Homo sapiens: one gene and its partner. The protein of the gene in region 2 purifies or fractionates together with the protein of the main gene of each other region. This does not show direct contact. Each region holds a gene or a part of one and is shown on either strand. Other genes may lie near its edges.

The links. Proteins that work in one complex are often made in the same cells at the same time.
Region 1: the proteins of MTMR9 (region 2) and MADD purify together in Homo sapiens (affinity purification with mass spectrometry; one large-scale study listed by BioGRID and IntAct). This does not show direct contact.

What each region holds. Positions count from the first base shown.
Region 1 is NC_000011.10:47,324,458-47,329,691, reverse strand, and holds part of MADD (MAP kinase-activating death domain protein), read right to left. Parts: intron 5,222-5,234; coding exon 5,115-5,221; intron 4,431-5,114; exon of another isoform or gene 4,359-4,430; intron 3,149-4,358; coding exon 3,140-3,148; intron 2,955-3,139; coding exon 2,885-2,954; intron 1,035-2,884; coding exon 988-1,034; intron 647-987; coding exon 542-646; 3' UTR 1-541. UniProt on the Homo sapiens protein: Guanyl-nucleotide exchange factor that regulates small GTPases of the Rab family. Converts GDP-bound inactive form of RAB27A and RAB27B to the GTP-bound active forms.
Region 2 is NC_000008.11:11,289,582-11,294,815, reverse strand, and holds part of MTMR9 (myotubularin-related protein 9), read right to left. Parts: intron 1-5,234. UniProt on the Homo sapiens protein: Acts as an adapter for myotubularin-related phosphatases. Increases lipid phosphatase MTMR6 catalytic activity, specifically towards phosphatidylinositol 3,5-bisphosphate and MTMR6 binding affinity for phosphorylated phosphatidylinositols.

The DNA of each region.
Region 1 (5,234 bases), on a different chromosome or scaffold from region 2:
GGGCAGTAGCTGCCGGCTTGGGAATGCAGAAGGAAGCAGGGAGGCTGCCACTCACTCCGGCTGCCCCCCAATTCTTCCCTTCCTCTCTGTGCCCTTCCTCTGAGAGGGTGAGCCCCAGGGTTCCCTCACTCCTCACAGAGTGAAACTGCTCCAGGCGCCCAGTCATGCCGGGTCACAGAGAAGGGAGAGCCAGACTCTTGCAGTGGACAGTTATAACGCCAGGGACAAGGACAAGGAACCACAACACAAATGTCTCAAGGACACAAAATAGTGGGTTCACACCGGCCCCACAGACTGTACACATTCTTGAGCCCTGAGGGGAAGGCAGTTTGGTCTTCTGGGAGTGGAGAGGGAGAAGGTGGACACGCTCAAGACACACTCAGAGGGACACATAACCGGTAACCAACCAAGCCACAGCAGGGGGCTTGCAGAGGACACACGAGCATCATCCACTCCTCAGTCACAGCAGCATCGTGCACTTGGGAACAGCAAGGGGCCAGGGGCGTGCCCTGGGCTGGGGCAGCTGCGTAGCCCCTCTCCATCAGCTAGAGACAGGCCGGGGCGGGGTTCTGAGATCTTCCTCACTGCTATGAACTGCAGCCACGTACGAGAAGAGACATAATACGGAGTAGCAGATTTCGTGGGCCTAGAGGAGAGAAAACCAGGCGGATCACGATACTGAGACTCCTCCATCTCCATATGTGAAGGATCTGCCAATGGGCAACTCCTGCCCTAACACTGGGCATGGGCCTCTGGGCTAAACGTGAGCTCCAAGCAAGGAAGCTGTCCCCATGGGAGAGGGGATCCGTGTGTGTGTGTCTGTCTCTCAGGGCTCAAGACCTGTTTCAGCCTGAGTTGAACCTTTGGCAACAAAACGAGGTCCCCACTCACCCCTGTGCGCTCAGAGGGCCCTCCCCTCCTCCTGTCCGAAGGTCCCCCAGGGAGCCCTGCGCACCGTGGCCCATCAGGGTTGAGCGGCACACTCACCATTGGTGTCTTGTACTTGTGGCTCACCACTTCTTTAATTTCAGGAACTAAAACCGGACGGGCAAGAGACAAAACAGAAAGTTCAACACTAAGAGCAATCGTGCCATGCTCCCCCAGGCGGCAGCGCCCGGCGTCAGGGTCCCCTTCCCCTCTGTGGCCTCTCACAGTGGCTGCAGCAGCTTAGGCTATGACAGGGCAGAGGCCACCAGAGGCTCTGTCCAGACTCTGCCAGCTGGGAGGACATGGCCCTAGCCTCCTCAGCTAGGCCTCTGTCATCCGCAGTGGCGTTTACTTGATGGCCGTGATTCTACCCACTTCTTTGAAAGCCCTGGATGGGAGGGACGGGCCTTTCACCAGCCTGGTCACAGCTACTGTCCAGGGCCCCTGAGGAGCTGCAGTGGGGAATTCCCAGGTTTTGGCTGGGAGGAGAGAGCTCTCTCTAGCTTGTGTCCAACTTTGCTGAGACACCCGTGAACTCGTCACCAGCCTGAAAATTGGGTCATGTTAAACACAGTTCCCGTTATTCCCAGCCCCCTACACAGAGGGTCTTGAGGCTGGATGAAGAGGTAACATGATATAAACCCACAGGATGTGGCAGTGTCCTTCCCTGAGTGGCAGGAGAAGCCCAGACCTGCCTGTGTGAGGGAGAGCGTCTGAGGGCTCTGGAGCAACACACCCAGCAGAAGACAGGCGAGTACAGCACCCAGGGAGGGAGGTGACAGGGAGCATCAGGCAAAATACACACATGTCCACAGCCCAGAAGGCAAGAGTGAGAGTCCCCCCGCTCCAGCCATGCAGGGGTTCTGCTTGGCCAGAGGAAGGAGTAGGCCCCCCAGGCTCAGCCACCATCATGGCCCCTTGAGACTGGGAGCAGAGGGGCCTGGCATCTCCCTGGGGGCCAGAAAAGGCAGGAGGAGAATTGGCCGTACCTTCTTCTGACCCTGGGAGGTAGAATTTGGGGGAACCCAGGGTCAGCAGGGAATAAACTCATCAAAGGTAGAGCAAGAAGCCCCAGGCCATTCTCCCGAGTTGGAAGATTCCCCCAAGTATCTCTCTGACAGAAGAGAGAAGGGAACACACGGGGAGGAAAGTCCAGTGAGCCGGTGAGAAGGGGGAGGCAAGGTAGGAAGAAAGAGGGTAGGGGAGAAAGGAAGAGACGAGCTGGCAGTGTGAGGAGCTGGTTCGATGGGAGCTACCCACCCAGGGCAGGGCCCAAGGCAGAGACCTGGGGAGAGGCAGCACGAGCCGAGGTCACTTTACCTGCTGGAGAACGAAGGTTTTCATAGCAGCGATGAGGGGCACAAAAGAATGAAGCACAAACACAGCAGGAACTCAAAGCCCCAGGGTGAGAACCCACTACACCACTCCCTAGCGCTGGCTCCCAGCTTCCGGCTACAGCTGTCCCGCTAGACTCCTCTGTCCCTCAAGTGAGTCTGCCTGCGACGCCCGGTGCCCCTTTGTCTGGCACAGAGGCCAGGTGGAGACCAGAGCGGCGCCAGGGAGGCTGGCTAGCGCACTGGGCTGCTAGAGAGATTGCAGCAGGTGACATGGACATAGTGGAGCTTGGGGGTCGCCAGTCTGCTGTGTCCCAAACTTTCTGACCACTGGCTGGCCCAGCACGGGGAGGTGGTGCTACTTCACTGAGCTGCTTCAGGACCACCTCTAAACTCGAAACCCACCTGAGGCCCCATTTGCTCTTCTGCGATCCATTATCTATCTTTCCCTTCCACATCCCGGCTCTCATCTCAGGGGTCCCTTTTCTTCCTTGTCACTCCTGCTCCTCCTGACTTCTCTACAGAGGTTCTTCTTCTCCCTGCCCCTAGACCCTCCTCTGGAGCTCCGAGGTTTGAGTTACTGCCATGTGAGTCCAGACCTAAGAGCAAAATAGTGTAATTACCAAATTCCTCCAGGACAAAGACGCCTCGAACTGTATTGCACTTTTTAATGTGATTCAGCTCTATGAAAACCTGCAAGAGAGGGAGGGAGGCCGGGGTAAGGCCCACAGGCTCCACCCCTGCCCCACACAGCACACTCTCCCAGCTACAGCCCCACCCACACAAAGAAAGTCTATTTCCCAAAGAGAGGACAGAAGAATCCACACGCACACAACTCAAAAGCGCTAAGAAGCGAAGATAGCAGAAAGGGCATGTACCTTCCGCTCCTGGCCGGAGGAGAAAGCATGGGAGAGAAATGAAGGCGTTAGTTTGAATGGTCAAACCCAACCCGAAGGCCCTGCTGCTGGCCTGGGCTGCCCGCCCGTACCCTCTGCCCAGGGCAGTGCTTGTAAGACACAGTGCCCCAGGGGTCCCCACTCAGCCCATTAGGTCTCTACCCTTCCATGCATCCTCCTCCGGCGCAGAGGGCTGGCACGGGCGCAAAGCTCCCCTCAGACTGTCCTCAGGGTGGGAGGTGTTGGTATCCTCCTTGAAACAGGATCCAGGATCTCCCAAGAGGTATGTGGTGATAATAATATCAGCTACCACTTGCTGAGCACCTACTTGGGGTTTTACAAATACGATTTCTAATCTCTGCACCTACTACGTGACACAGTAAATAGTATTACCCCCATTTTCTACATGAGGAAACTATGGATCAGAAAGTTTCTTTGCCCATGAACGTGGAAGCTGGGCTTCAAATCCAAGCATGTCCTCACACCGAAGCCTGTGCTTTTCCCATTTACCCCAGACTGCACAGCTCCACCAGGAGGTCTGCTGCCTCCTCCACTCCAACTGAACACTGTGTGGCAGAATAGGGGGCAGGTCGCTATCTCATTACTAACTGTGAGGTGAGATTGAGAACCCGGGCTTTCCTCCCCTTCTCTGCAGTCTATCTTCTAGGGGCCAAGCCTTCAACCACAGACTGGCTTGGATGGCTGCCCAGTGGGGCTATGCCAAGGGCAGGACGAGGAACAGGGCAGAGCACCTGGGCGTTGCTCAGCAAGATCTCATCTTCAGAGGCCACGGCGCTAAAATGTGGTCAGAAGTCTGCTCCCCAAGAAGTACTGACACCTTTGTGGTCCAGAAAAGCACTTAGGTAGACCCCTCTCTGGGATGGTCCTAAGGTCTTTGGGGTTGGCTACTGCCCTAAGTCCTAAATTGAAAATATACTAAGGGGCTGCTGGCAGCCTGCGCAGCCATTTCCTGTTAAACCAAAGCTGCCCAGCTACGTTCCTGAAAGAGAGCTACAACGGCTAGCGGAGGGAGGGAGACAGCCACGTCAGTCAGGCATCCACCTCCCCTGAGGGTCTGCGGCCTGGCCAGGGTCTGTGGGGCTTCACACATTTGGGTCTGGCTCAGAGCCTCAGGGAGAGGAACCCGGACATCAGGGAAAGAGGAGGGAAGGCACTTGTGTGAGGAGTCAGAGCTGTGAACGGACCTGGGATGATGCGCTGGCCTCAGAAAGGAATTAGCTTAAGGAATGTCCACTGAGAGAAAAAGGTAACACTGTGTTAAAAGACCAAGAGAGAAAAAAAAAAGTCAGCTCCTATGGTGGAATTACAATGAGGGAAAGATGTATCCACAAGTGCTCCCCAATCAAAAGAAAGGGAATGGGGCCTGTGGAGCAGGGGACAGAGTGGGAACACTCAGAGGAAGGAAAAGAACAGGAAGAAGAATCCGCAGAAGAAAAAGGCAAATAAACACACTCCAGAGAGGACAGATACAAGCTACTTACACACAAGCACGCAGGCACGCACGCACGCACACGCAAGCTGCACGCACACCAGAAAGACACAAGGAGATCGGCCAGTCTAGACTCTCAAAGCAAAACCACCAAGCAGAAGCATATCCTGGGAATAGAGGAAGGCAGAGACACTGCAGGGGAAGGGCCAAGTGAGACGCTCCCACTCACACTGTGTGGAGTCCAACGGATGGGGCAGCGTGGCCACCTGGCCTCGCTCCTGCCCAGCCTCCCCCACGGGCTCCCTGGTGCACCTTCACAGCGCCAGGTGGTCGCCAACGTCACTGTGCCCTCCCCTGGGGTTTCTTTCCTGGGTCCAGCTGCTCCAGTTCTCCCTCTAGCTCCAGAGGGCCCTCTCTCATGCTTGCTGGGGAAGTACTGGGGGCTTGGACATTGGTCCTTCTTACAGATGGAACGACAGGGAGCCTCGTGCTGCCGCTCGCACCTACCTGATTGTGCATGAATTTGAGGTTGATCCCTTCCAGGGTCACCTGCAGCAGGCCACCCTCACCAGTCTTCAGGTCCTGCACAGGGAACTCGCCACCCAATTCAGGTCCTGTGGTGAGGGA
Region 2 (5,234 bases):
TATGTATCAATTTATAAAAAGCAAAAGGGCCGGGTGCCGTGGCTCACGTCTGTAATCCCAGCACTTCAGGAAGCCAAGGCGGGTGGATCACGAGGTCAGGAGATCAAGACCATCCTGGCTAACACAGTGAAATTCTGTCTCTGCTAAAAATACAAAAAATTAGCTGGGCGTGGTGGCATGCAGCTACTCAGGAGGCTCAGGCAAGAGAATCGCTTGAACCCGGGAGGCAGAGGTTGCAGTGAGCCGAGTCTGAGCCACTGCACTCCAGCCTAGGTGACAGAGTTGAGACTCTGTCTCAAAAAAAAAAAAAAAAAAGTGAAAGTATTTGACAAAATCTAACATCCATTTCTGATTTAAAAACATGAAAAACCAAAAATTTCTCAGCAAATTTGAAACAGAAGGGAACTTCCTCAACCTGATAAGGGCATTTACAAAAAACCCCACAAAAAAACCCCTAAATCTAATAGCACACTTAACGGTGAAGGATTGAATTATTTCTCTCTAAAATCATGAATAACACAAAGATGTTCACTGTCACCACTTCTAGTCAACATTGCACTCAAGGTTATAACTAGTGCAGTAAGGTAAAAAGAATAAAAAAGGATTAAAAAAGAAGTAAAACTACCTTTATTTGCAGATGACGATTGTGTAAATGTACCCAGAATTTTCTTTTTATTGTCAATTATTCCCCAAATTCATCCAGTGATACAACATAATTCCAAACAAAATCACAGCAGACTTTAATGTAGAAACTGAAAAGGTGATTCTAAAATTCATATGGAAATGCAAATGTCTTCAAATAGCCAAAACAACTTTGAATAAGAACAAAGTGGTATGGCTAACACTACACAATTTCAAGGCTTACTATAAAGCTACAGTAATTAAGACAGTGTGAAAATGACATGATGATAACAGATCAACTGAACAGAAAAAAAGAGTCCAGAAATAGATCCACTTACACGTGAACAGAGATACGAAGACAATTCAATTGAAGACAGGTCAGTCTTTTCAACAAATGGTGCTGGCACAACTGGATAGCTTTTTTTTTTTTTAAAGAATTTGAATCTATAATCATGAACCATATACAAAAACTAACTCAAAATGGGACCTTTTACCTAAATGTAAAACCCAAAGCTATAAAACTGCTAGAAGAAAACATGAGAGAAAATATTTGTGACCTTAGGTGAGGCAATGGTTTCTTAGATAAGACACTAAAATCCCAATCTATAAAAGAACAAACTGACAAATTGGACATGTTCAAAATGTAAAACGTCTGCTCTTTGAAACACAGGGTTAAAGAGCATGAAAAGGTAAGCCACGGGGCATTCCTGTAGGCTATTGAGGACTTCATCAACAGGCTACACTAAATTTACTGTTAAAATGTTTCTTTCTTCAACAATAAATTAACCTTACCTTACTGTAACTTTTTTACTTTATAAACTTTTTAATCTCTAACGTTTTACCTCTTTTGTAATAACACTAAGCTGAAAATACAACACACCATACAGCTGTACAAAAATATTTTCCTTCTTTATATCCTCATTCTATAAGCTTTTTCCAATTAAAAAATTTTTGTTGGTAAACTTTCTTGTTAAAACCTAAGACACAAACACACACATTAGCCTAGGCCTACACAGGGTTGGGATCATCAATGTCACTGTCTTCCATCTCCACATCTTGCCCCACTGGAAGGTCTTCAGGGGAAATATTAATAACATACATGAACCTGTCATTTCCTGTGATGATAATGCCTTCTTCTGGATAATTCTTGAAGGACTTGCCTGAGGCTGTTTTACAGTTAACATTCTTTTTAGAAGTATAAGCAGTATACTCTAAAATAACAATAACAAGTATACTATAGTAAATACATAAACCAGTAACAAAGTCGTTTTATGATCGTTTATAAATATTATGTGATGTATGCAATGGTATGTGCTACATTGTTGTGTAACTGGCAGCCCAGGTTTGTTGTTTATACTGGCATCACCACAAACACAACGTCACTGGGCAAGAGAAACTTTTCAGGTCCATTATAATCTTATGGGACTACCATCATATATATAATAAATCACATGACTGTGTATGAATATACAAACATACACTCTCAAAACGCAGTAAGAAAGCAAATAATCCATTACAAATGGGAAAACTATATGGATGGTCACTTAGCAAAAAAAAGACATATGGATGGCAAATAAGCATATGAAAAGATGCCCTACACCACTAGTCATAAGGGAAATGCAAATTTAAGCCACAGTAAGATACCACTTAACATCTATTGGAATTGCCAAAATTTAAAAGACAGACCATAGCAAATGCTGACAAGAATGTGGAGGAAATAGAACTCTCACACACTGCTCATAGGTATGTAGAACTGTAGGTACAAGCACTTTGGAAAACAGTTGGGGCAGCTTCTTAAAAAGTAAAACACATACCTACATCTGATCCAGCCATTCCACTGGCAAGTAAATGGCTTGCCACCCAAGAGAAAAGAAACCACATGTTCATTCAAAGACTTGCATAAGAATATTAAAAACAACTTTATTTAATAGCCTCAAATTGGAAACCCACATTTCCATCACCAGGTGAATAAATGAACTATGGAATACTGCAAAATGGACACTTAGTACTCAGCAATAAAAAGAATGAACTATTGATATATACAACATGGACAAATCTCAAAAGAGAGTACTGCATGATTTATGATATACTGACATAAATTTCTAGATAATGCAAACTCATCTGTGACTACTTGGAAAAGAAAAGAAGGAAGGGATTACGAAAGGGCACCACAAAACTTATGGGGGTGATAAATTCATTATCTTGAACTTATGGTGACAGTTTCAGGGTGTGTACATATATCAACACACATCAAAGTTTACACTTCAAATATATATAGTGTGTAATACGTCGACTGTACCTCAATAAAACTGTTTTAAAAATCACTGTCATTCTGCTTCAGCTGGAAGTGAAAGACACACAGCAACCAAACTGTCAGTAAAAAAACAAAAAAAATGTACAAGACATACGGTTATTCTCTTGTAAATTTCCATATCATCTATGCTTGTCATACTAACTCATTTTGTAAGGTGAATTTTGTTTTGTTAGTCTGGCAGGTTTTATGTAGTTGCTATAAAGTATAATGAATGACTAGAGGAGTTAAAAATAATTGTTACTTTATGTCAGAATAAATATGCTATAAACTATTAAGGTATTCTCCATTCATTTATTCAATGTTTCTAGTCAGTTACTTATAGAACAGTGGGCCAAGAAAAATATGTTTTAAAAACATAAGAGCTCCACAAAACTCCTATGATTCACATCAATTGTCAGATTCAGTTCTATTTTATCATTTTGTCCTTATTGTCCCATCCATGCCCTGTATACATCCCTATCACAGCATTTAAAATACTTTATTAAACTTTCTAGTTTATATGTTTATTTCTTATAATGGTCTTAGTTTTTTCAGGTAGAAGGCATGTTTGATTAATTTCTATATCCTCAGCTCCTAGTACAGCACCTAGCATATACACCATCTTAAAGTTCCACTAAGGGACTTAAAGGAAGATCTGAATAAATAATGTAACATTGTTCATGGATGTCAAGATGTCAATTTGACTCCAATTAATCTATAAATCCAAAACAATTCATTTTTTTAAAATCCTATGAAAATTGTATAAAGTCTGTGGTCTAGTTAATAGTACTGCACCAATGTCAATGTCCTAATTTTGTCCTCATTTTGATTACACTACAGTTATAAAACAGGTCAACATTAGGGGAAGCTGAGTGGACGATTCTAAAACCTCTATGTGCAATTTTTGCAACTGCCTTTGAGTCTTCAATTATTATTAAAGACTTTTAAAAATCCCATGAACATAGCAAGTTTTCCAAAATTGCATGGAAACATAAAGGTCGAAACATAGTTGTCAACTTTAAAAAAAAAAAAAAAAAACGAAAGCGGGGCAACTAGCACTATCCGATTTTTGGACACATCACAAAGCCACAGAAGGAAAGAGAATATGATGATGACAAAAGAGCAGATTAATGAACCAATGGATTATGACAGAGAGCTCAGAAACAGACCCGTATATATAGGATAACTTGACATAAACCAGCCAAGGTTGGGTTGTCACGTGATGGGATTAAGAAAACTGGCTTGCTCTATGGAGAAAAATAGGTTCTTATCACACTTGAAACAAAGATAGAATCCAAATTAAAGACCTAAAAATGAACAGTAAAACTATGAAGCTATTATGGAAGAAAATGTAGGAGAACATCCTGGTGATTTGGGGACAGGGAAGGAGTTCTTAAGACAAGCCACACACCATAAAGCAAAACATTGGCAAGTTCTGCATTAAAAGTAAAGATTTCTGTTCAACAAAGGGCACCACAGAAAAAAACAACAGATGGGTGACACACTAGAAAACATTCGTAATGCCTAAATGGAGAATGAACACCCACAGAGTATACAAGGTACCCATGCAAATCAACATGAGAAGGACAATAAACCCAATGTTTAAAAGTAGACCACAGAAATTAGGCAATTCACAAAAAGGAAAAAAAAAAATTTTAAGTATACTGCTCACAAGCATATACAAAGATAATTAAACACTAATAATTAATGAAATTCAAATTAAAACAAAGCAATAACTATTTCACAATCTTCAGACTGGAAAAATTAGAAAGACAATACCAAATGTTGGTAAGAAAGTGGAGACGAGGTACCCTCTCCTGCACCATCATGGGAAGGCAATGTGCAATTGTCATCCTGGAAAGCAATTAGTTTGTGAAATGAGATACGCACCTACTTTATGGCGCCATCCCATCCTAGGGGCAGTCTCAGAGCAATTATGGCACAAGACTATATAAAGGGACATGAATGAGTATGTTTACCAGAGTTGTTTGTGATAGCAGGGAGTTGGAAGTTACCTAAAAGGTCTGTTAAGGAAGCTCTTTTAGATACTTTGGAATCCTATGCTGTCAGAAGCAGTGAAATGGTTGTACACACAGCAATATGAAGAGATCTTGAAACAGTATTGTGTCACCATATTAAGAAGCAGAACAAGATCTACAACATAATCCCAGTTAGGCAAATTAAACTCACACATGCATGTGTGCGCACACCCATACACAATAGTGCTATCTATTTTATAGCAACAACTAACGTGGTTGCCTACAGGGATTGTGGATGAGGCAGGAAACGGGAGTGAAAATTAGGGAGGAAGAAAATCAAC